Linked DNA regions of Homo sapiens. The protein of the gene in region 1 purifies or fractionates together with the protein of each later gene. This does not show direct contact. Each region holds a gene or a part of one and is shown in the gene's direction. Other genes may lie near its edges.

The links.
Region 2: the proteins of PTPRB (region 1) and RBM34 purify together in Homo sapiens (affinity purification with mass spectrometry; one large-scale study listed by BioGRID and IntAct). This does not show direct contact.
Region 3: the proteins of PTPRB (region 1) and DDX31 purify together in Homo sapiens (affinity purification with mass spectrometry; one large-scale study listed by BioGRID and IntAct). This does not show direct contact.
Region 4: the proteins of PTPRB (region 1) and RBM28 purify together in Homo sapiens (affinity purification with mass spectrometry; one large-scale study listed by BioGRID and IntAct). This does not show direct contact.
Region 5: the proteins of PTPRB (region 1) and NOC3L purify together in Homo sapiens (affinity purification with mass spectrometry; one large-scale study listed by BioGRID and IntAct). This does not show direct contact.
Region 6: the proteins of PTPRB (region 1) and HP1BP3 purify together in Homo sapiens (affinity purification with mass spectrometry; one large-scale study listed by BioGRID and IntAct). This does not show direct contact.

The regions. Positions count from the first base shown.
Region 1 is NC_000012.12:70,630,930-70,634,429, reverse strand, and holds part of PTPRB (receptor-type tyrosine-protein phosphatase beta), read left to right. Parts: intron 1-3,500. UniProt on the Homo sapiens protein: Plays an important role in blood vessel remodeling and angiogenesis. Not necessary for the initial formation of blood vessels, but is essential for their maintenance and remodeling. Can induce dephosphorylation of TEK/TIE2, CDH5/VE-cadherin and KDR/VEGFR-2.
Region 2 is NC_000001.11:235,147,751-235,151,250, reverse strand, and holds part of RBM34 (RNA-binding protein 34), read left to right. Parts: intron 1-2,803; coding exon 2,804-2,847; intron 2,848-3,500.
Region 3 is NC_000009.12:132,659,984-132,663,483, reverse strand, and holds part of DDX31 (ATP-dependent DNA helicase DDX31), read left to right. Parts: intron 1-66; exon of another isoform or gene 67-112; intron 113-157; exon of another isoform or gene 158-259; coding exon of another isoform or gene 260-262; intron 263-788; coding exon 789-1,045; intron 1,046-1,147; coding exon 1,148-1,223; intron 1,224-2,232; coding exon 2,233-2,276; intron 2,277-2,283; exon of another isoform or gene 2,284-2,517; intron 2,518-3,500. UniProt on the Homo sapiens protein: May have DNA helicase activity and RNA helicase activity. Probably have ssDNA and RNA dependent ATPase activity. Plays a role in ribosome biogenesis and TP53/p53 regulation through its interaction with NPM1.
Region 4 is NC_000007.14:128,316,409-128,319,908, reverse strand, and holds part of RBM28 (RNA-binding protein 28), read left to right. Parts: intron 1-1,802; coding exon 1,803-1,952; intron 1,953-2,175; coding exon 2,176-2,250; intron 2,251-3,500. UniProt on the Homo sapiens protein: Nucleolar component of the spliceosomal ribonucleoprotein complexes.
Region 5 is NC_000010.11:94,335,833-94,338,939, reverse strand, and holds part of NOC3L (nucleolar complex protein 3 homolog), read left to right. Parts: intron 1-203; coding exon 204-332; intron 333-1,065; coding exon 1,066-1,163; intron 1,164-3,107. UniProt on the Homo sapiens protein: May be required for adipogenesis.
Region 6 is NC_000001.11:20,777,308-20,780,807, reverse strand, and holds part of HP1BP3 (heterochromatin protein 1-binding protein 3), read left to right. Parts: intron 1-267; 5' UTR 268-367; coding exon 368-463; intron 464-896; coding exon 897-996; intron 997-3,500. UniProt on the Homo sapiens protein: Component of heterochromatin that maintains heterochromatin integrity during G1/S progression and regulates the duration of G1 phase to critically influence cell proliferative capacity.

The DNA.
Region 1 (3,500 bases):
ATTCTTTCCCACCATTTTTTCCTCTACAACCACCTCCAAGATTCTGTTTCAGGAAATCTGGATTTGTGCATAATACTTGATATTTATTAATCACCAGAAAATTTTGATCCATAATCCAATATGGAGATCAGCATCCACTGTATTGTTAAGTCTTTTCCTTAGGTGTTGATTTGTGAGGCTTATATTAGTCTTTCCACCATGGTAATCTTTGGACAATTTTTTCTCACTCATTCATTCTGTAAGTTAAAACAAGCATTTAACTAGATGCCATTTGAATGTGTTATGCTTTTCTACAATAAGTGGTATGCTTTGCTACAATAAAAGTTGAGAGTTATAGTTTCTGTTCTTATATCATTTCTGCCTATGAGAAAAAAACCTACTCAAAAATTCAACTTTATCAGAAAATATTCAGCATATAGCACCAATTTGTACAATACCTTTCCTGTGGTTCATCTATCAAGGCCTCTCCTAAATAATATAGAAACATTATAACTGTTCCATTTTTACTGTTTTACACAAGAAGTGAGATTCATCCCCAAACCCCAATCAAACCTTATTTAACATAAGATTACTTAGTTGGAACTTTAAAAAAAAGTAGATATGGACTCAGTGGTGAGTTATTCAAGATAAAAGATAATTCATAGAAAAACTACCTCCTATGACCCTCATACAAATATGTCTAGTAATAGACTTCGAAAATAAGGTAACTAGAATAAGCCATTTGCAATTAACCACTGAACAATGCTATATTCAAAAAATGCCTGATAATATGTGTTGGGGAAAGAAATTAATTTCTAGAAAAAGCAGAAGTTAAAATTTGCACAATTGTGGTACAAAAACACCCTTATATTTGAGTACACATAAGTATAACACATACTTTTGCTTTAACACAATTATAAGCTAACAGATATATTTTTCTGCTCCATCTTAAATATGCCATTGTGGGGTTTTTTCTTTTTGTTTTTGTTTTTTCTTTGGTTTTTGTTTTTAGAAACAAAGTCTTGCTCTGTTGCCCAGGCAGGAGAGCCATGGTGTGATCATAGCTCAATGTAGCCTCCAACTCCTGGGCTCAAGTGATCCTCCCACCTCAGCCTCCCAAAGTACTGGGATTACAGGCATGAATCACCATGCCCAGCCCTGATAAAAGTTTAAGAATAATACTTGTAGACCTATATCATGAGAGCTCACTGACTTGCTAGAGTAGCTACTGTGAAAAATTAACCGAAATGCATTCATATGTTTGCAATGAGTGATTTCAAATCATTGTTTAAGTTGGTAACTAAGTATTATAATCTACAGCAGCACAAATACATGTGTTGTTCATCTATGGGATGTGAATTTTTTTGTGTGTTCTTCCATGAAAGAAAGCAGACCTATGAAGGTAAAAATCTAAGCCACATGTTTCATATTTGTTTCATAAAAGACACATTAATGATTGTATTCAAGTTTCCAGGTAATATTTATTTAACACCTACTATGTGCCAGAGCTTGTGCTAGCACTCAGGTACCCTGTGCTAGTACTAAGGTGCCCTCCACAAGTGATTTTTGACCCAAGCTGCATATTAGACTCACATGGCAGCTTTTAACTAATACTAGAGTATAAAACCTGAGCTTTATCCTCTAAGCTGACTAAATGAGGTATTGTATTTTTAAAGTACTTCCTAGGTGATTCTGATGTGCAGCCAAGGTTGCAAATCATTAAATACATCTTATTCCTTAAAGTAATGGGGAAATCAGATAAGTAAATAAATAGGTAATTACAATAGAATGTAGAGAGAAGAAAGTACTTTCCTTTCCAATATATGTCCTTGCCAGTATGTCACATTAAGCACTCATTCCTTTTTTTTTTTTAATTATACTTTAAGTTCTAGGGTGCATGTGCACAATGTGCAGGTTTGTTACATAGGTATACGTGTGCCATGTTGGTTTGCTGCACTCATCAACTCGTCATTTACACTAGGCATTTCTCCCAGTGCTATCCTTCCCCCAGTCCCCCACCCCCCGACAGGACCCAGTGTGTGATGTCTCCTGCCCTGTGTCCAAGTGTTCTCGTTGTTCAATTTCCACCTATGAGTGGTACACGCGGTGTTTGGTTTTCTGTCCTTGTGATAGTTTGCTGAGAATGATGGTTTCCAGCTTCATCCATGTCCCTGCAAATGACATGAACTCATCATTTTTTATGGCTGCAATAGTATTCCATGGTGTATATGTGCCACATTTTCTTAATCTAGTCTACCATTGATGGACATTTGGGTTGGTTCCAAGTCTTTGCTATTGTGAATAGTGCCACAATAAATATACACGTGCATGTGTCTTTATAGTAGCTTGATTTATAATCCTTTGAGTATATACCCAGTAATGCAATCACTGGGTCAAATGGTATTTCTAGTTCTAGATCCTTGAAGAATCACCACACTGTCTTCCACAGTGGTTGAACTAGTTTACACTCCTACCAACAGTGTAAGTGTTCCAATTTCTCCACATCCTCTCCAGCATCTGTTGTTTCCTGACTTTTTAATGATTGCCATTCTAACTGGCAAGAGATGGTATCTCATTGTGGTTTTGATTTGCATTTCTCTGATGACCAGTGATGATAAGCATTTTTTCATGTGTCTGTTGGCTGCATAAATGTCTTCTTTTTAGAAGTGTCTGTTCATATCCTTTGCCCACTTTTTGATGGGGTTGTTTGTTTTTTTCTTGTAAATTTGTTTAAGTTCTTTGTAGATTCTGGATATTAGCCCTTTGTCATATGGGTAGATTGCAAAAATTTTCTCCCATTCTGTAGGTTGCCTGTTCACTCTGATGGTAGTTTCTTCTGCTGTGCAGAAGCTCTTTAGTTTAATTAGATCCCATTTGTCTATTTTGGCTTTTGTTGCCATTGCTTTTGGTGTTTTAGTCATGAGGTGTTTGCCCATGCCTATGTCCTGAATGGTATTGCCTAGGTTTTCTTCTAGGGTTTTTATGGTTTTAGGTCTAACATTTAAGTCTTTAATCCATCTTGAATTGATTTTTGTATAAGGTGTAAGGAAGGGATCCAGTTTCAGCTTTCTACATATGGCTAGCCAGTTTTCCCAGCTCCATTTATTAAATAGGGAATCCTTTCCCCATTGCTTGTTTTTGTCAGGTTTGTCAAAGATCAGATGGTTGTAGATGTGCGGTATTATTTCTGAGGGCTCTGTTCGGTTCCATTGGTCTATATCTCTGTTTTGGTACCAGTACCATGCTGTTTTGGTTACTGTAGCCTTGTAGTATGGTTTGAAGTCAGGTAGTGTGATGCCTCCAGCTTTGTTCTTTTTGCTTAGGATTGTCTTGGCTATGTGGGCTCTTTTTTGGTTCCATATGAACTTTAAAGTAGTTTTTTCCAATTCTGTGAAGAAAGTCATTGGTAGCTTGATGGGAATGGCATTGAATCTATAAATTACCTTGGGCAGTATGGCCATTTTCACGATATTGATTCTTCCTATCCATGAGCATGGAATGTTCTTCCATGTGTTTGTGTC
Region 2 (3,500 bases), on another chromosome or scaffold:
GCTGCAGGTTTTGTGGTTGCCTTTGACTCTTCATTGGCTCACCCATGCTAGTGTTTGCCACTCCTGTCCGTTTTTCAACTGTGATTTCTTCCTAATATGAGTCATTCCTTTCTTTTTTCCTTGTCCTACCTAAGTTCTCATTACCTCCTGTCAGAATAGTCGCAGAGGCCTATTGTAGTTCCTTACCTTCAGTCTTCCTCTAATTTGTCCAACAAAACACTGTGAACTCAGTCTTCCTGAAGCTCTTCTTCCCGGAACCCTTACCTCTTTCCCTGCCTTGCATTAATGAAACGCCCTTCCCCCCATCCCCCCAGCCGCCACACACACACCCCTCACGGGGCCTGCTATTGCCTTCTCCCCTTTGGGGAGCCTACCTTGATTCTCCCCAGTCTCTAGGCTACCAGTGTGTCCCTGCTATGCATTTGACAGCACCCATCCCTCATTACAGTACTTAGTACACTCTACTGAAATTGTCGTTTGCCTCCTCCACCAGACTGTAAGCTGTGGTTACAAATACTCTGTCTTACTTCTTCTTGGGTTACCAGCACCTGTACATTGTGTTAATTATTCTGTCAGTGAAATACATCCTTAATTCTTAGCTTGGCAGTTCTCCAGTGTGGCCCTGCCTCTCCTGTGTTCCTCTACACGTGGGTTTTCTCACCTTTGTCCCTTTGCCAGTCCATTTGTTTTGCCTGGAATCCTTCCTTAAAGTACCATTTTTGCCTATGAAAGTATTTTTCAGTATGTGGCTAAAAATGTCCCTTCTTCAAAGCTTTTCCGATACTTTATATCATTAAGTGATATTTTTTCCTCTGCATTATTCCTGTACTTTATTGCCTTATGTTGTACTTATGTATTAATATCTTTAATGACAGGATGTAGGCCGGGTGCAGTGGTTGATGCCTGTAACCCAGCACTTTGGGAGGCCAAGGCAGATCACTTGAGTTCAGAAGTTCGAGACCAGCCTGGCCAACATGGCAAAACTACGTTTCTACTAAAAATACGAAAACTAGCTGGGCATGGTGGCGGGGGCCTGTAATCCCAGCTACTCGGGAGGCTGAGATGGGAGAATCGCTTGAACCTGAGAGGCGGAAGTTGCAGTGAGCCGAGATTGTGCCACTGCACTCCAGCCTGGGCGACAAAGCGAGATTCTGTCTCAAAAACAAACAAAATAAAACAAAACCAAACAAATAACGGGACGTAGACGCTGTACAGAAGGCACCCAATAAATGTGTTTTGATGATGTCATTCACATGTTGATTATTCATTTAGCCATTTCTGTGTCTTGTACTGTTTTTTTGAGGTTTGAGAGTTTGACTATGTTAGCAATTTTAGCAAGATAAACTGCAAACAGAAGAAATAGTTAAAATTTCATAGTTTTACTATGTAAACTATCAGGTTACTGAGAAAGAAAATAGGTTTTCCAGAAAAGATTTATAATAACTACCCTACATGGCATTTATGTTCTAGATTGTGAACTTGCAGGGTTGGTATCTTTTCACCTTGATCTTCTCAGTACCTGGTTGCATTTGGCATGTTGTCGACAGCTGTAGTTGTTGACGTGTATTTCTGCCTCTTCCATAAAGTTTTCCCTACCTGCCCCATCCACTCTTAAAGGAGGCTATATATGACTGGAAATAAAGTGAACCTGAATATAAAGGGGATTCCCTTACCTGCATGATGGACACCATGCATTTTTTTGGCTAATATATAAACTCTTAGAGATACAGGTGATATGTCTTTTTATATTATTCATCAGTTCAGTTAGACATATTTAAAAATTTATTAGAATACACGATAAAATGTTAATTTATAAACATTTCTTTTTCCTTAACATTTTTCCTTTTTTTTTTTTTTTTTTTGAGACGGAGTCTCGTTCTGTCGCCCAGGCTGGAGTGCAGTGGTGCCATCTGGGCTCACTGCAAGCTCCGCCTCCCGGGTTCACGCCATTCTCCTGCCTCAGCCTCCTGAGTAGCTGGGACTACAGGCGCCCGCCACCACGTCTGGCTAATTTTTTTGTATTTCTAGTAGAGATGGGGTTTCACCGTGTTAGCCAGGATGGTCTCAACCTCCTGACCTCGTGATCCGCCCGCCTTGGCCTCCCAAAGTGCTGGGATTACAGGTGTGAGCCACCGCGCCCGGCCTTTTCCTTACATTTTTCATGTGTCTTTCATCGTCGGTGTCTCTTCCTGGAGTCCTCCCTGTAGGAGTCATCTGATGCAATTTGAGAGCCCGGTATCTTAACTTCTGTCTGGGTTTTTGAGTCCCTGCCTGTTAAATCTGAGCATGATGGTTTCATTGGAAAAACTTATCCTAAGCCACGAGCTTCGTTTCATATAGCATTAAGATGATTGGCCAGCCGTGGTGGCTCATGTTTGTAATCCCAGCACTTTGGGAGGCCAAGGTGGGCGGATCACGAGGTCAGGAGATCGAGACCATCCTGGCTAACCTGATGAAACCGCATCTCTACTAAAAATACAAAAAATTAGCCGGGCGTGGTGGCGGGCGCCTGTAGTCCCAGCTACTCAGGAGGCTGAGGCAGGAGAATGTTGTGAACCCAGCAGGTGGAGCTTGCAATGAGCCGACATCATGCCACTGCACTCCAGCCTGGGTGACAGTGTGAGACTCCATCTCAACAGGAAAAAAAAAAAAAAATTAGGACAGTTGTTTCTGATTTGTTTATTTCCCTAGAATGTTTTTGATCACAGTGTACTGGAGTTAGATACTTAGACTTCACTTAAAATATTAATTTGAGGTAATACTTCAAATACTGTCTTTAATACTTTTTTTTTTCTCTTGAAAGATTCCAGCAGAGGGAACGCTATCCAAAAAGTTGGCAGCAATAAAGTAAGTTTATAATTAGAGAAAGGGAGTCACCTTAAACTTTCTTCCTTTTTGGCTAAAAAGTGAGACCATTTCTTAACAATTGCATAGATTTTATTAATATATTTGGATAATAGAGCATGATTGACTGTTTGCTTCTGTATTTGAGAGCCTTTAGATTTGTCACGTTTTTCTTTAAGCCATAATATAATTTACAGAGTCGTAGAAAATATTACTGGAAAATGAGCCATGAGAAATTTTAAGAATGTTTTTAGTGTTTGGAAGAGAGTGTAAAGCTTCATGCCTAAATTTTCTCATACAGATTACAAATGCCATATTTCCTGTGTTTTTCCAGAGAGAATTCATGTTTGCTTGTGCTGGTCACCTGGGTATACTGCCAGCCTGTGACCACTTGGCGTTCTCTGTTTGAGGGTTTTGGACCACACTGGTGGTGGCTTGTTACCAGTGCTCAGGGGATTTTTTTTGTTTCCCACTCAGTGTCAAGAATGAAACCTACAAGTCTCCTTGTTCGCCCTTCCATATGGAAGGCTTATTTTTCATTTACCTTCAGCTTTATGCCGGTTTCCTATTAGTCTCATATCTTGGGTGTTTTTCTCTCTTAATGGTATATGAAATGATGAAGTTTATAAGCAGATATTTCTTTATATTAGATAAAA
Region 3 (3,500 bases), on another chromosome or scaffold:
ATTCCTGTAATGGAAATAAGAAGCAACAGGCAAGAGATCCCTAGTGCTGTGTAGCCTGTAATCCGCAATCAGGCAGAGACTCGGGGACTCAGAGACTCGAAAGGCAAGGGAGGTAGGAAGTAATTGTGGTAGAGGTGATGGATGGAGCAGCATTCTCATTTGGAATGGGAACAGGGCGTAGGAATTTTCTCCAGGCCGTCTGAATCTGGAGGAGCAGCTTGAGAGGAGAGAATGAGAGAGATCCAGGCGCTAGGGTAGAATGGTAATGAATGTTTCCGCTTCCTGGGCACGGGCTGAGATGCGCATTCCCCCTCGCCCCTCTCTCCTGTGCGGTCTCCAGTGTGCTTTGTTGGTGGAGAGAAAAGATTCGTTTTCCCCCACCCCTCTTTTCTCCTTGGGTGAATGGGTTCCTAGGAATATGGATTGACACACCCTTCACAAGGTGGATTCTTGCTTCCCTTAAAACAGACTCCATTAGTTAACATTCAACTGGAAAAATGCTGCTTCTTCATCCTTACCTTATCTTGATTGATTTAACAGTTAAGAATGGCTGGTGAGGTCTGGTAGATGAGTGAGCTGAGACTTTTTTCTTTTTTCTTTTCTTTACCTTTTGGAAGAAGCTGAGTCAAAGAGTCTGATTGCAAACCCTAAACTGTTGCTTGACATATGGGGCATAATGATCTCTGCAGGGAGAGATGCAATTCTGTGGGCAGTCAGGCTTCACTCCGAGCTCTGTTTTCATGGACTAATGCATCTCTTGTTGATCTTTCCTTCTGGGAACAACGCAGCAAGCAAAGGCTACGAAAAGAAAATACCAAGCGTCCAGTGAGGCTCCCCCAGCGAAACGGAGGAACGAAACTTCATTTCTCCCAGCCAAGAAAACTAGTGTTAAAGAAACTCAGAGGACTTTTAAGGGGAACGCACAAAAAATGTTTTCTCCAAAGAAGCATTCGGTTAGCACAAGTGATAGAAACCAGGAGGAGAGACAGTGCATTAAGACTTCATCACTGTTTAAAAACAACCCTGACATTCCAGAACTCCACAGGTATGTCCAGGGGCGGATGCCCTTCAGGAAGAAAAAAATGTGTTCTGCCTTTTCTTTGTTAATATTGGCACTGATGCCTGGGTTCTTGTTCATCATTTGCAGACCTGTGGTAAAGCAGGTGCAAGAAAAAGTGTTTACTTCAGCTGCTTTTCATGAGCTGGGCCTCCACCCACATTTAGTAAGTACCTTTCAGTGTTTTCTGGGTCAGTTTTTTTTGGTGTGTTTGTCCGTTCAGAAGGTCTGTGAAATGGCCGCTCTAGGAGGAGAGATCAGAGAGTGTTTGTTTCTGCTCTAAGTTACCTGAATGAACTCAGATTGATATGATACTCTTCTAGGACAGTTCAAGGGTGCTTAGGTTACTGTTCACTGTTTTCTGGCCCCCCCTTCCCCCATCCTCTGTTTTTTTGTGTTTTTGTGTGTGTGTTTTTTTAAGTATTGAAGACTTTCCTCGACTAACGTGATTTAGGGTCAGGACATCACTTGCTAAACTTAAAACAGCTCCCTATTTACTGGATAGTTGTAGTGGTGAAGCCATTTGTGGTGGCAGATGTCACAGTGGCCATAGGAGAGGGAACTGTGCTGGCATCTTGCTGTTAAAGGACGTCCACAGTTTTAGAGAAGTAAGGGAAGAAGAGTATTTTGGTGTGTGTTCTACAAACAAATGGACACTTTAAAGGAAAAAAAGTGAGTTCTCCAGACTCATGAGTAAGAAGAAAAAAATATATTAACTTTTAGGCAGGCTTGGTTTCCTCTGCACTTTCGGTTACAGCTTACTACCCCTTCTGTAGGGTGGGTTACCTAAACTTGTTTTCTCACCTGGGGGGTGGATCAGGGTTTCTCAGCCTTGGTGCTGTGGACATTTTGGACTAGGTCAGTCTTAGTTTTGGGGACTGTCCTGTGCACTGTAGGATGTTCAGCAGCATCCCAGGCCTCTACCCACTAGATGCCAGCAGTGCCCCCCTCCCCTGGTTATAACAAGCACAAATTTTTCCAGACTTTGCCCTGTGTCCCCAGGGAGTTAGGGCGGGTGGCAGAATCGCCCCAAGTAGAGAGCACCACCTGGGTGGAGGAACTTAATTTGATCATAGTAGTCAATGTTCTCTCAATAGTTTCTCCTTTCTTGTGTAATTTCCGTTAAATATTTTGTATCAAAATATTAATTAAAGCTTTTTCATCTCCTCTTTTAGATTTCCACAATAAATACGGTCTTAAAAATGTCTAGTATGACCAGGTAAGAACTTCAGGCTCCTCTTGATTTCTTAGGCATTACGTGGGTATAACCGGACGAAACCTGTGTGTGCAAGGCAGAGCAAATTTGTGTCTTGGCGTTGGAACACAGTGCCAGGTTATCGACCATAAAGGGTTGTCGTCTCACTTAGCTACTCATTCTCTCCACCTGTTAAATGGAAAGACTGGCTTTCCATCCAGTTCTGCCCTTGGCTCTGAACCGCAAGAGACGTCTCATCCAGAAGGTGGGCTGCATGAGCGCCGCTGTTTTCTGTGCTTCCCTGAAAAGAATTTGGCCAAAATATAGCATGTGACCATGTCGTTTCTTAGTAGTAAGAATTAGGGTCAACCAAAAAGACAAGAGTAAATGTTCAGTTGGATAGAGTGGGATACTGAAAAAATGTTTTCAATGTTTGTTACAGGGAATGACTCCTGGAAAATAAAGAAGTAAAATAGGTGCGAGGAGATGAGCTTCCTTGTTTTGAGTATTTGTGCTTCTGTGCATTTTCATAATGATTTTTTACTTTTACTAGTAAAAATTAATAGGAATATTAAAGTCCAAATTAAGGGACCTCCCCACAAGTTTTTTATCAACCAAATTTAAGTGATTTTTGTGTCTCTTTTGTTTCTTGTTTTAAAATACATGTGTAGACACACATTTCAGCATGTCCATAACCTTTTCCTGGAGAATGGACAGCTGCTGCTGGCTCTCTGAATAGTTGGCGAGCTTCCTCCTGCTATCCTGCATGGAAACCTTTCCATTATGTTTCGTTGTGTTTCATATTCCTGTTAGTGAGGGCAAGAGTGTGTGATACACTTGGTGGTAACTCTGATTTGTTGTCATGCCTGTTTCTTTTTCTTTTTTTTTTTTTTTTTGAGACGGAGTTTTGCTCTTGTTGCCCAGGCTGGAGTGCAGTGGTGCGATCTTGGCTCACTACAATCTCTGCCTCCCAGGTTCAAGCGATTCTCCTGCCTCAACCTCCTGAGTAGCTGGGATTACAAGTGCGTGCCATCACTCCCAGCTAATTTTTTGTATTTTTAGTAGAGATGGGGTTTCATCATGTTGGCCAGGCTGGTCAAACTCCTTACCTCAGGTGATCCACCCACCTCAGCTTCCCAAAGTGCAGGGATTACAGGTGTGAGCCACTGCAGTCGGCTGCCTGTCCCATTTTTAAAAGAATTAGTTTAATAGAATGGCCAGTCTCTGGTTTGCCTCACCATTTTCAGG
Region 4 (3,500 bases), on another chromosome or scaffold:
TAGAGACAGGGTTTTGTCATGTTGCCCAGGCTGGTCGCAAATTCCTGAGCTCAGATGATTCCCCTGCTTCGGCCTCCCACAGTGCTGGAATTATAACAGTGAACCACTGGGCCTGGCCTTGCATATCTCTGTCATACTGGTTACTATTACCCTGGCCTCAAACTGTCTGTCAGTCACTTCTCCCCACTAGACTGAGTTTTTGAGGCAAGCGTTATCTCATTATCCCCAATCCTTGGTGTAGTACCTGGTACATAGTCATCTCTTAGTCAATATTTATTTTAAAAGTACCATTGCCAATATTTTGGGCCTGCTTTACTCTGTTTCGCTACCATAAACTGTTTTCCTAATCCCTGAAAACCTCTTCAAAATGTATGGATTGGTATTTGGGAGATTACTTGAGAGAATGTGAATATATCAGCACATATCTGACACCACAGTTAGTAAAACTGCTCAGTGTTACTGGTTATAGGGGAGGGACAGTTGTGTAATTTCTCCTATCATCCGAATACTTAGTGCCTACATATTTAACACCTGTCATAATTTAGAGAAATTTATGTTTATTCTAGAATATTTTGCATTATGTTGAATTTTCCTCTTAATTCTTTCCTATTTGTATGTATAGTGTCTCAGTAAGATGGTAAGCATCTTGAGAACAGGATCTTCATTATATGCTTCTCTTGATTCCCTTACAGTGTATGACAGTTCTAGGCACAGAGTGGACACTGGACATAAACTAAATGCGGCATCCATGCATCCCCAATACTTAGCTGTTTCCATTACATGAGAACGACAGCTTTGGTAGTAATGGCATGTAAATGATCAGTTTTCTCGAAAAATCCTACCATACTTTGGTGCCCCAGATGTTTACTACATCTGGCTTAAGGATTTAAGGGAAAACCACACTAGAGAGGATCTGAGCTGCAAGCAAAGAGAGCTGAAACTTCTTCCTATATTTCTGACCCTGTATGTTGGAGAGACTTTTTCCTATGCTTGAAATGTCTTTCTTATCTAAAGCCATCAGGCCTTCCTCCTTTCCTTCTTCAATAATTTCCTTCCTGAGGGCTTTTTTCAGTTGTAAGATCTGTGGACAGTACTCCATCCTCGGCAGCAACTTGTTACACGCTTAAAATACCATGTACCTCTCAATTTGTATGTATCGCAAACAGTTGTGTTTGTATTGTGTTTGTTTTTTAACATCCATACCGCTTTATAAATTTTCTTTAGGAAGTTTTGTTTATGTGCTTTTTTTTAGGTCTCTGTTGATGTCTATAAGCTAGTAGAAAGCAAGAAAATACAATTTTAATCTGTTTGATGGTCTTAGTAGGTAAATTCTAATAAGATGGACACACATAAGTGTTATTCCAGTGTGATTTTTGTGATGGTGGTATAAATGAAGATTATGTTTCAATAACCTGATTTTTTTTTTTTTTTTTTGAGACAGGGTCTCACTCTGTTGCCCAGGCTGGAGTGCAGTGGTGCCATCATGGCTCACTGTAACTTCAACCTCCCCGGGCTCAGGTGATCCTCCTGCTTCAGCCTCTTGAGTAGCTGAGGTGCCACCACACTGGCTAATTTTTTGTATTTTTTGTAGAGACAAGGTTTTGCCATGTTGCCTAGGCTGGTCTCAAACTCCTGGCCTCAAGCAATCCTCCTGTCTCGGCCTCCCAAGGTGCTAGGATTACAGGCATGAACCACCATGCCCACCCAATAGCCTGATTTCTTATTGACTCTATTAAAGCAGTTCATGTCAGGCAAGTCTTCTCATTCTGTAATTACTGATTTTTTTCTTGCTCTACTCATAGTGTAGAGTGATGCGAGACCTCAAAGGAGTTCATGGGAACATGAAGGGTCAGTCCCTGGGCTACGCCTTTGCGGAGTTCCAAGAGCACGAGCATGCCCTGAAAGCCCTCCGCCTCATCAACAACAATCCAGAAATCTTTGGGCCTCTGAAGGTAGGCCTTGTCCTCTGGGGAGACTTGTTCCCTTAGGACCACTTGCAGGAAACCAGCCTTCTCCTTTATGCCTAGTGTCCTCTGACATTTGAGGGGTGGGAAACAGTGGCAAGTGGACAAAAAAAAGGTGGGTTGGGGGAGGATGTGTGAAGGGGAAAAACTCAGCTCATTGCATGCACAGATTAAGAAGTCTAATGAATGGCATTCTGTCTCCCTCTGACAGAGACCAATAGTGGAGTTCTCTTTAGAAGATCGAAGAAAACTTAAAATGAAGGAATTAAGGATCCAGCGCAGCTTGGTACAGAAATTAAATGGTCCATATTTTTAAGGACATAAACTCTTCTATTTTGTTCAATTTGTGCTTCTGCTCTCTTAGAGTAGTTCTCCCCTCAGTTAGGTTTTTTTGCTCCTAGTTCCCTTTACTCCCAGTTCCCTAAGCCTCTCCAGGCCATCTTCTTATCTGCTGGCCCATGTCTGATAGCTCTACAGCAGAAGGGAAAGGAAGGAGAGAGGAAGCAGACCAATGTTATTTCCAGTCAGCCGTTTTTTACAGTGTTTGGTGATAGTACGTGCCAAAATTAATGGTTGAGGTTAAGGTTTCCCATTACCTGTAGATTTCAGTTATCTCTTCCATATTTTCTTTTATTAGTTGGCTCCAGAAGTGTGAAGCCTGATAGTTTTAGTACTGTTTTTAATCTGGTGTGGTATAGAAGGTGGAGCAGGGACTTTAGGAATACGTGTACTCATGCTCATACTCTGGCTCTGCCCTTTTTGCTGCATGTTCCTTGGCAGTTATTACCGCTCTGAACTTCAGTTTGTAAAATGGGGTGGACAACATCTGCCTCACATGATTGCTGAGGACTAAATGAGATAATACATGTCCATCGTCTAGCATACTGCATGGTCAGCACGCAGTCAGTACTCATTCTCTTACCCATCTTCCCCCAGGACATACAGGGCCAGATTATTCTTGACTCTGTCATTCTTAGAGCTCTCATTGATATTGCACAGCAAAGTTCCCTTGCATATACAGCAAACATTTGTAGTCTTTGTGGTATATACCAAGAGGATTACCAACAGACGAGCCATTCTGGTGGTTAATGCAGTGGCCCTAGGTTGGAAAATCTGGGATCTGGTTATTGTTCAAGGCAACTTTGTTCCCCAGATAATAGAATTGTTTATTACTGTTAGCCATTGTTTCAGAGGTGATTCTGAAGCTACCAGTTTTGTTTGTTTTTCTGTTTGAGATGGAGTCTTGCTGTGTCGCTCAGTTTGGAGTGCAGTGGCACAATCTCAGTTCACTGCAACCTCCACCTTCTGGGTTCAAGTGATTCTCTTGCCTCAGCCTCCTGAGTAGCTGGGACTACAGGTGCACACCACCATACCCGGCTAATTTTTGTATTTTTTTAGTAGAGACAGGGTTTCACCATGTTGGCCAGGCTGGTCTCGAACTCCTGACTTCAAGTGATCCACCTGCCTCAGCCTCCCAAAGTGCTGGGATTACAGGCGTGAGTCACTGAGCCCAGCCTAGTTTGTTTTTTAACATCC
Region 5 (3,107 bases), on another chromosome or scaffold:
CAAGCAAAGATAAAATTTTTTTTTGCAACTCTTGTTCTTACTATATAAACTTAAATTGTTTTTTATTAAATCTAGGTGTAAAGACTTTATGCAAAGCTCTTATACAACCATAAATTTAAATGCAAATACAACTACAAACCAGTAACACCTCTTATATTAACAATGTTAATTTAACCAATTCTTTTTATGTGACATTTTTGCAGACTTTCCCCAAAACAGATCTACTGCTTGACAGTGAATCTCAGGGAAGTGGAGTTTTCCTTCCTGAACTGGATGAGCCTGAGTACTGCAATGCTCAGAACACTGCTCTGTGGGAACTGCATGCTCTGCGGGTAAGAGTGGCCCTGGTTTTTTTCTTTTTGGGGATGTTTGTGAATAATTGTTTTCCAGTTTTTCTTCAAATAGTTGTTATTGCCAGAGTACTTAATTATATTTTGTTCTGGGGCTGCCTTTTTTAGAATTCCTGTGTTAGTATGCTACATTTTACTTTGCTGTTACTATTCTTTAAGCTGTTGAGGTACATTTTCTAAGGAAGCAGAAAACAGTGTCAGTTCTGTAGGGTGCAGTTGTGGAAGATTTACTGAAACCTTTCCCTTTATTGAAATCTTTCCCTAACACTCTTCAGAGGATTTGTTATCAGGTACATTTCTGTTGAGTCTTATCCAAGGAGACTTTAGTAAGCCCTGTTTCAAGATGGTTTCACCTATGCAGTGATCCTACAGTATGGACAGCATTAGAGTGAGACTTGTAGAAAATAGAAGTGGCAGGTAACCTGTTGTAAATTAACTTTTTTCACTCTGAAAGAGGAATTGCTTTTTGATTTTTCTATTTATATTGTAAAAGCAAGACTAAACTACTTCACTGGTAACTTGATTTGTGTTTTAATCCTATTAGCAAAGATAATATTCTTTCTGTGGGTATGTGCTTCTAATGAATTACATATACTGTACATAGGTGATGAAAAAAAATTTGGTGTAATTTTATTTAAGAAAATCTTTGCTGTGGCTAGTGTTTTTTGTAAAGGACTGACCTGTGCAGAATGTGATTGTCCCGTTTTCCCTTCAGAGGCATTATCATCCCATAGTGCAGAGATTTGCAGCCCACCTGATCGCTGGAGCACCTTCTGAAGGCTCTGGAGCACTCAAACCAGAGTTGAGTCGAAGGTAATATTTAGCATTGCCTTATTCTAAAACTACAGAATTGAGCTGATAGCCACTTACTATGAGAAGACTGTTTCATAAAGTAACATACTACAAAATGTAAAGTGCCAGTTGGGTATCTGGATTGGTCTTGCTTCATATTCCTGAATTGTTCTGAAAGAAAACATGCTATGATTTTGTTGATCACTTAAAACATTTTTTTTCTTCTTCTGTCATTCAACTTGAAAAACATTTTTTTAATCGTGAAAAGTTTCGCACATACAGGATAGTAGAATGGCATAGTGAATGTCCATATGCCCCCCATCACTCAGGTTCAACAATGAATAATCTATGGCTATAGGTGCTTCATGTGAAGATAAAACACAAGTCAACCAAATTAAGCTTCCTTGCTTTCTCGCTCGCTCGGTCTTTTTTTTTTTTTTGAATGGCCCTGTTAGGGCAGGATGAGGAGAAAAAAAAAATGAGGAGAGGGAAGAAAAGAGGTGCTTTGGAACACTGCCATCCAGAAGGGCAGCTTTTTCTTTTTTTGGCCCTTGCAGAGTACCTTCTGACCTATAAGCAGCTTGGATGGGTACTTCCAGCATCTACCTCACACCCAGATGGGGAAAAGGTCCTCCTAAAAGAGTCTTCTTTTCCCTGAACTGTTTACTTACAAAATTTTCACAAGTACAGAAAGGTGAAAAATAGTAATTACTTTTTTTTTTTTTTTTTGAGATGGAGTCTCACTCTGTTGTCCAGGCTGGAGTGCAATGGCGCAATTTCGGCTCACTGCAACCTCCGCCTCCCGGGTTCAAGCGATTCTCCTGCCTCAGCTTCCCGAGTAGCTGGGATTACAGGCACCCGCCACCATGCCCAGCTAATTTTTGTAATTTTTGTAGAGATGGGGTTTCACCATGCTGGCCAGGCTGGTCTCGAACTCCTGACCTCAGGTAATCCACCTACCTTGGCCTCCTAAAGTGTTGGGATTACAGGCGTGAGCCACTGTGCCCAGCCAGTAATTACCTTTTTTTAAATACAGACAGGAAATACTTAAGTTATACAGAGAAAGAGAGAAAATGGTATAAAAAATCCCTCAGTCCATTTATGGTGCCATAAAAAATGCCTAAGACTGGGTAACTTATAAACAACAGAGGGCCAGGCTCAGTGGCTCACGCCTGTAATCCCAGCACTTTGGGAGGCCGATGCGGGTGGATCACCTGAGGTCAGGAGTTCAGGACTAGCCTGGCCAACATGGTGAAACCCCATCTCTACTAAAAATACAAAAATTAGCCAGGCGTGGTGGTGGGTTCCTGTAGTCCCAGCTACTTGGGAAGCTGAGGCAGGAGAATTGCTTGAACCCGGGAGGCGGAGATTGCAGTGAGTCGAGATCTCGCCATTGCACTCCAGCCTGGGTGACAAGAGCGAATCCGTCTGAAAAAAAAAAAACAGAAATTTATTTTCTCAGAATTCTGGAGGCTGGGAAGTTGAAGATCAAGGTGCTGGTAGGTTTGGTTGACTGATGAGGGCGCCTCTCTGCTTCTGAGATGGCATCTTGTTGCTGCATCTTCTGGAGGGGAGGAACCCCATGCCCTCACATGGCAGACAGGACAGAATGGGAGCAGTGCCACAGCTTCACTTCATGAAGCCTCTTCTATAAAGACTTTAACCCATTTATGCCAGAGGTTGCAAATTTTTTTTGTGTGTGAAAAATCAGACCTTGGCGATGACCTTGAGCAGTAGGATATAAATAACTCCTACAAGCTTAGTGTTCTGATAATGGAACACTAGTAGGCATAAATGGGTTAATCCCATTCATGGCTTAATCACCTTTTAAAGCTTTTGCCTCTTAATACCATCACATTGACTGTTAAGTTTCCGTATCTGAATTTTGGAGGGGACACATTGAAACTATAGCACCTTACAATGTACTCATTACCCAGAATTAATATTTTGCTGTAGGTTTTTTCC
Region 6 (3,500 bases), on another chromosome or scaffold:
GTTAGGTTCCTTAGGAGCTTCCTTGCCCTTGTTGTCTTTGTTCATGTGGAAGGTGCAACAGCTGCCGTGGCTTATGCATTCGTCTTAGTTGCTGCTTTATGTAGTCTATATTTTGGTAGTTTTATCTTTCTGAGTAACCAAATCATCTGTCACTTACCTATAAATTTTATAGTTATATTTTTTCCCTTTGGATGTGTATTAAATTTAGACGTTTTAGTTTAGTTTTGTTTCTGTTAATCTTCACACCAGGTCTTTTCTGTGCTTTAGGTTGATTCTTCACCACACTGAAACCATTAGGAAAAATCCTTGTGGTTAACAGCAGAGGCTTCAGAGTGTAACCTGTACTCGGGCCTAGAAATTATTTAAAATGGCGACTGATACGTCTCAAGGTGAACTCGTCCATCCTAAGGCACTCCCACTTATAGTAGGAGCTCAGCTGATCCACGCGGACAAGTTAGGTGAGGTAGGGGCTGACACATTCTTGAAGCTCACTCTTGGATCAATCCCTGACTTCAGGCCCTGCTGGGTCCTTCTTGGTACATGTTCCTTCCCTTACTTTGGGGAGTCTAGGTTGTGAATTTGAAACAAAATCAGATTCTTTTCATCTTCCCTTTCCCCTCAAATTCCTGAGAAAACCTCCAACCTTCTAAATTTATAGCAAATCAACTATAATTATGTGTTTCCATTTGAAATTCAAGCTAAAATAACATACTTTAAAAAGTGTATCTTAAAAATCATATTTCACTTCAAAAAAAACTTGTTAAAAGTAATTTGCATCAGATCCTGGAGTCGACTTGAAGAATTCTCCTACATCTGACACCCAGTTAGGCCCTTTGAGAAAGAGAGAAAAGAGAATTTTTTAATGCATGTTTGATTATGGCCATCTCTTTTCTTAGAAGGTAGAAGATAGCACCATGCCGATTCGTCGAACTGTGAATTCTACCCGGGAAACTCCTCCCAAAAGCAAGCTTGCTGAAGGGGAGGAAGAAAAGCCAGGTAAAGTAAAATGGTGACACAGCTTAAAACATCAAAAGTTATACTGCAATTTGGAGTGTCCCATAAATTCCTTTGAACTTAATTGTTTTTTTTTTTTTTTCATGGCTAAGTGTTTTGGGGAAACATTTAGAGAGAATCAGTAGCTATTGGTATGTCATTGCCAGACCATGAGGGCAAAGTAAGGTTTCATCTTCTCTATAAAGGTTTTTGGAAGGTGAAAATGTTATGTTGGAATTAAAAACAAAAATGTTTGGGGATGACAGGAATGGCCAGAGAGTAGCATTCTGGACATAAAGTGTCATGGGGATCAGTGCAGTGTGGGAGAATGGAAAACGTGGGCCTTTAGAATAGACAGTGGAAGGTTCATCCAGAAATCATCTGGAGGCCTTCAGAGAAGCAAATGGTGATCTGTTGATCTATAACAGGTATTGGTAGAGAGAAGATTGGCCAGTCAGTGGTGGGAGCATAACAAATGGAAAGAAACATAGACCCATCAACATGGAGTACTAATGCTCCTTTATGGCATGTATAACCACCTCTTCTCCTTTTCCCGTCTTTATTTTTCTTCTCATGATCTTTTTGGTTTTTTTCCTTATCTTTTCCCTTTTTTCCTTTCTCTCTTGCCTTTTATCTCAGGTTTTTCAGGGATAAGCACACTGTGCTGCCTCTGTTGTGGCTGTTAGAATCAATTATTTGCTGACCAGCATGTATTAGGAATAGAGGGCCGGGCACAGTGGCTCACACCTGTAATCCCAGCACTTTGGGAGGCCAAGGAGGGCAGATCACCTGAGGTCAGGAGTTCGAGACCAGCCTGGCCATCATGGTGAAACCCCATCTCTACTAAAATTATAAACATTATCTGGGCATGGTGGTGCATGCCTGTAATCCCTGCTACTCAGGAGGCTGAGGCACAAGAATTGCTTGAGCCCAGGAGGCAGAGGTTGCAGTGAGCTGAGATCACGCCATTGTATTCCAGCCTGGGCAACAGAGGGAAACTGTCTCCAAAAAAAAGAAAAAAAAAAAAAAGAGGAGTAGAAAATACATGCATCCTTGGTGCATCAGGGCAGACATCAATAACCAGTCAATATACTCTTTTCTGGCTGAGCCTGGATTTTTTCTCTAAATCCTTAGATGAATGCTATAAGCAATTTGGGCACCCTGGCCTAAGGCAGTTAAGAAACACGGGAATCCAAATATTTAAAAAAGTAAACGGGTGCTGGTAAGTTGAAGATAGGTTATCTTGTCCAGCACTGGGATAAGCCACTTGGTGGTCCATCTTAATCCATGTTTAACAGCCAGCTGAAGCCACTAAATCACTAATAACATCAGTTTTCAGAATATATGCCAGAGGGTTCAGATGTAAAGTATTAGAAAACTCAACCAGAAGTTTATGAAGAAACAGTGTCACTTCACAAGTTGTATGTTTGTTTAATCTTCTCTCTATCCCATTTTGTACACAGTATTTTGTACATAGAAATTAGACTTCACTTATTTTAAATTTTGTAAACTCTATGTTTTACACAGAAACACAGTAGTTTAATGAGTTGGAAACAGTCTTATACATAATACATATTCAATATCTGTTGAGTGACTGAACTTTATTAAGCCATAACTCTTGAGCAGTTATTCTTGAGAAGAGAAAATAATGTAAATTTATAAGTCTTACTACCGTAAAACCCCTGAATGATTCTTAGCTTTTCATCTTTTTTAGAATAAGACAAAGTGTAAATAAACATGACTAACTAATAGTAAATTCTTGCCCATGCAGCCATTTAGGTCAAATTGTTGGGTTGAGGGGCAGTAAAAGATATATCATGATGAAAAATACATTTTATTGTGGAAAACCTAAATGTAGTTATTATCTTTATCCCCAGATACCATTGTTATAGTGAAGTTCTATCCATAATACTTTGTCATCCTAAGCATATGGGAAACAATTCTAGAAGCAGAGAATTCCAAAGGAGGATGGAAATCACTCGCTTAGTATAAGTGTTAGAATTGTACTTATGTGATTTGGTTTTAAGAAAGAAGTGGCATTTTAAAATTCTCTTTATAGCTGGGCGCGGTGGCTCACGCCTGTAATCCCAGAATTTTGGGAGGCTGAGGCGGGTGGATCACGAGGTCAGGAGATCGAGACCATCCTGGCTAACACAATGAAACCCTGTCACTACTAAAAATACAAAAAATCAGCTGGGCATGGCGGCACGCACCTGTAGTCCCAGCTACTAGGGAGGCTGAGGCAGGAGAATCGCTTGAACCTGGGGAGGTGGAAGTTGCAGTGAGCCAAGATTGCGCCACAGCACTCTAGCCTGGGAGACAGAGCGAGACTCCGTCTCAAAAAAAAAATAAATAAATAAATAAAATTCTCTTTATGGGAAGGCCACAAAGAAGTCCTCGTCATTATTGCAATAATTAGTTCACATAATTTAAATGATCAAATTCTTCAAGCATATACTTTGGCTTGAAGTATATGCTTGCCACTGGAGTCCTTTTTCTTTCATGTT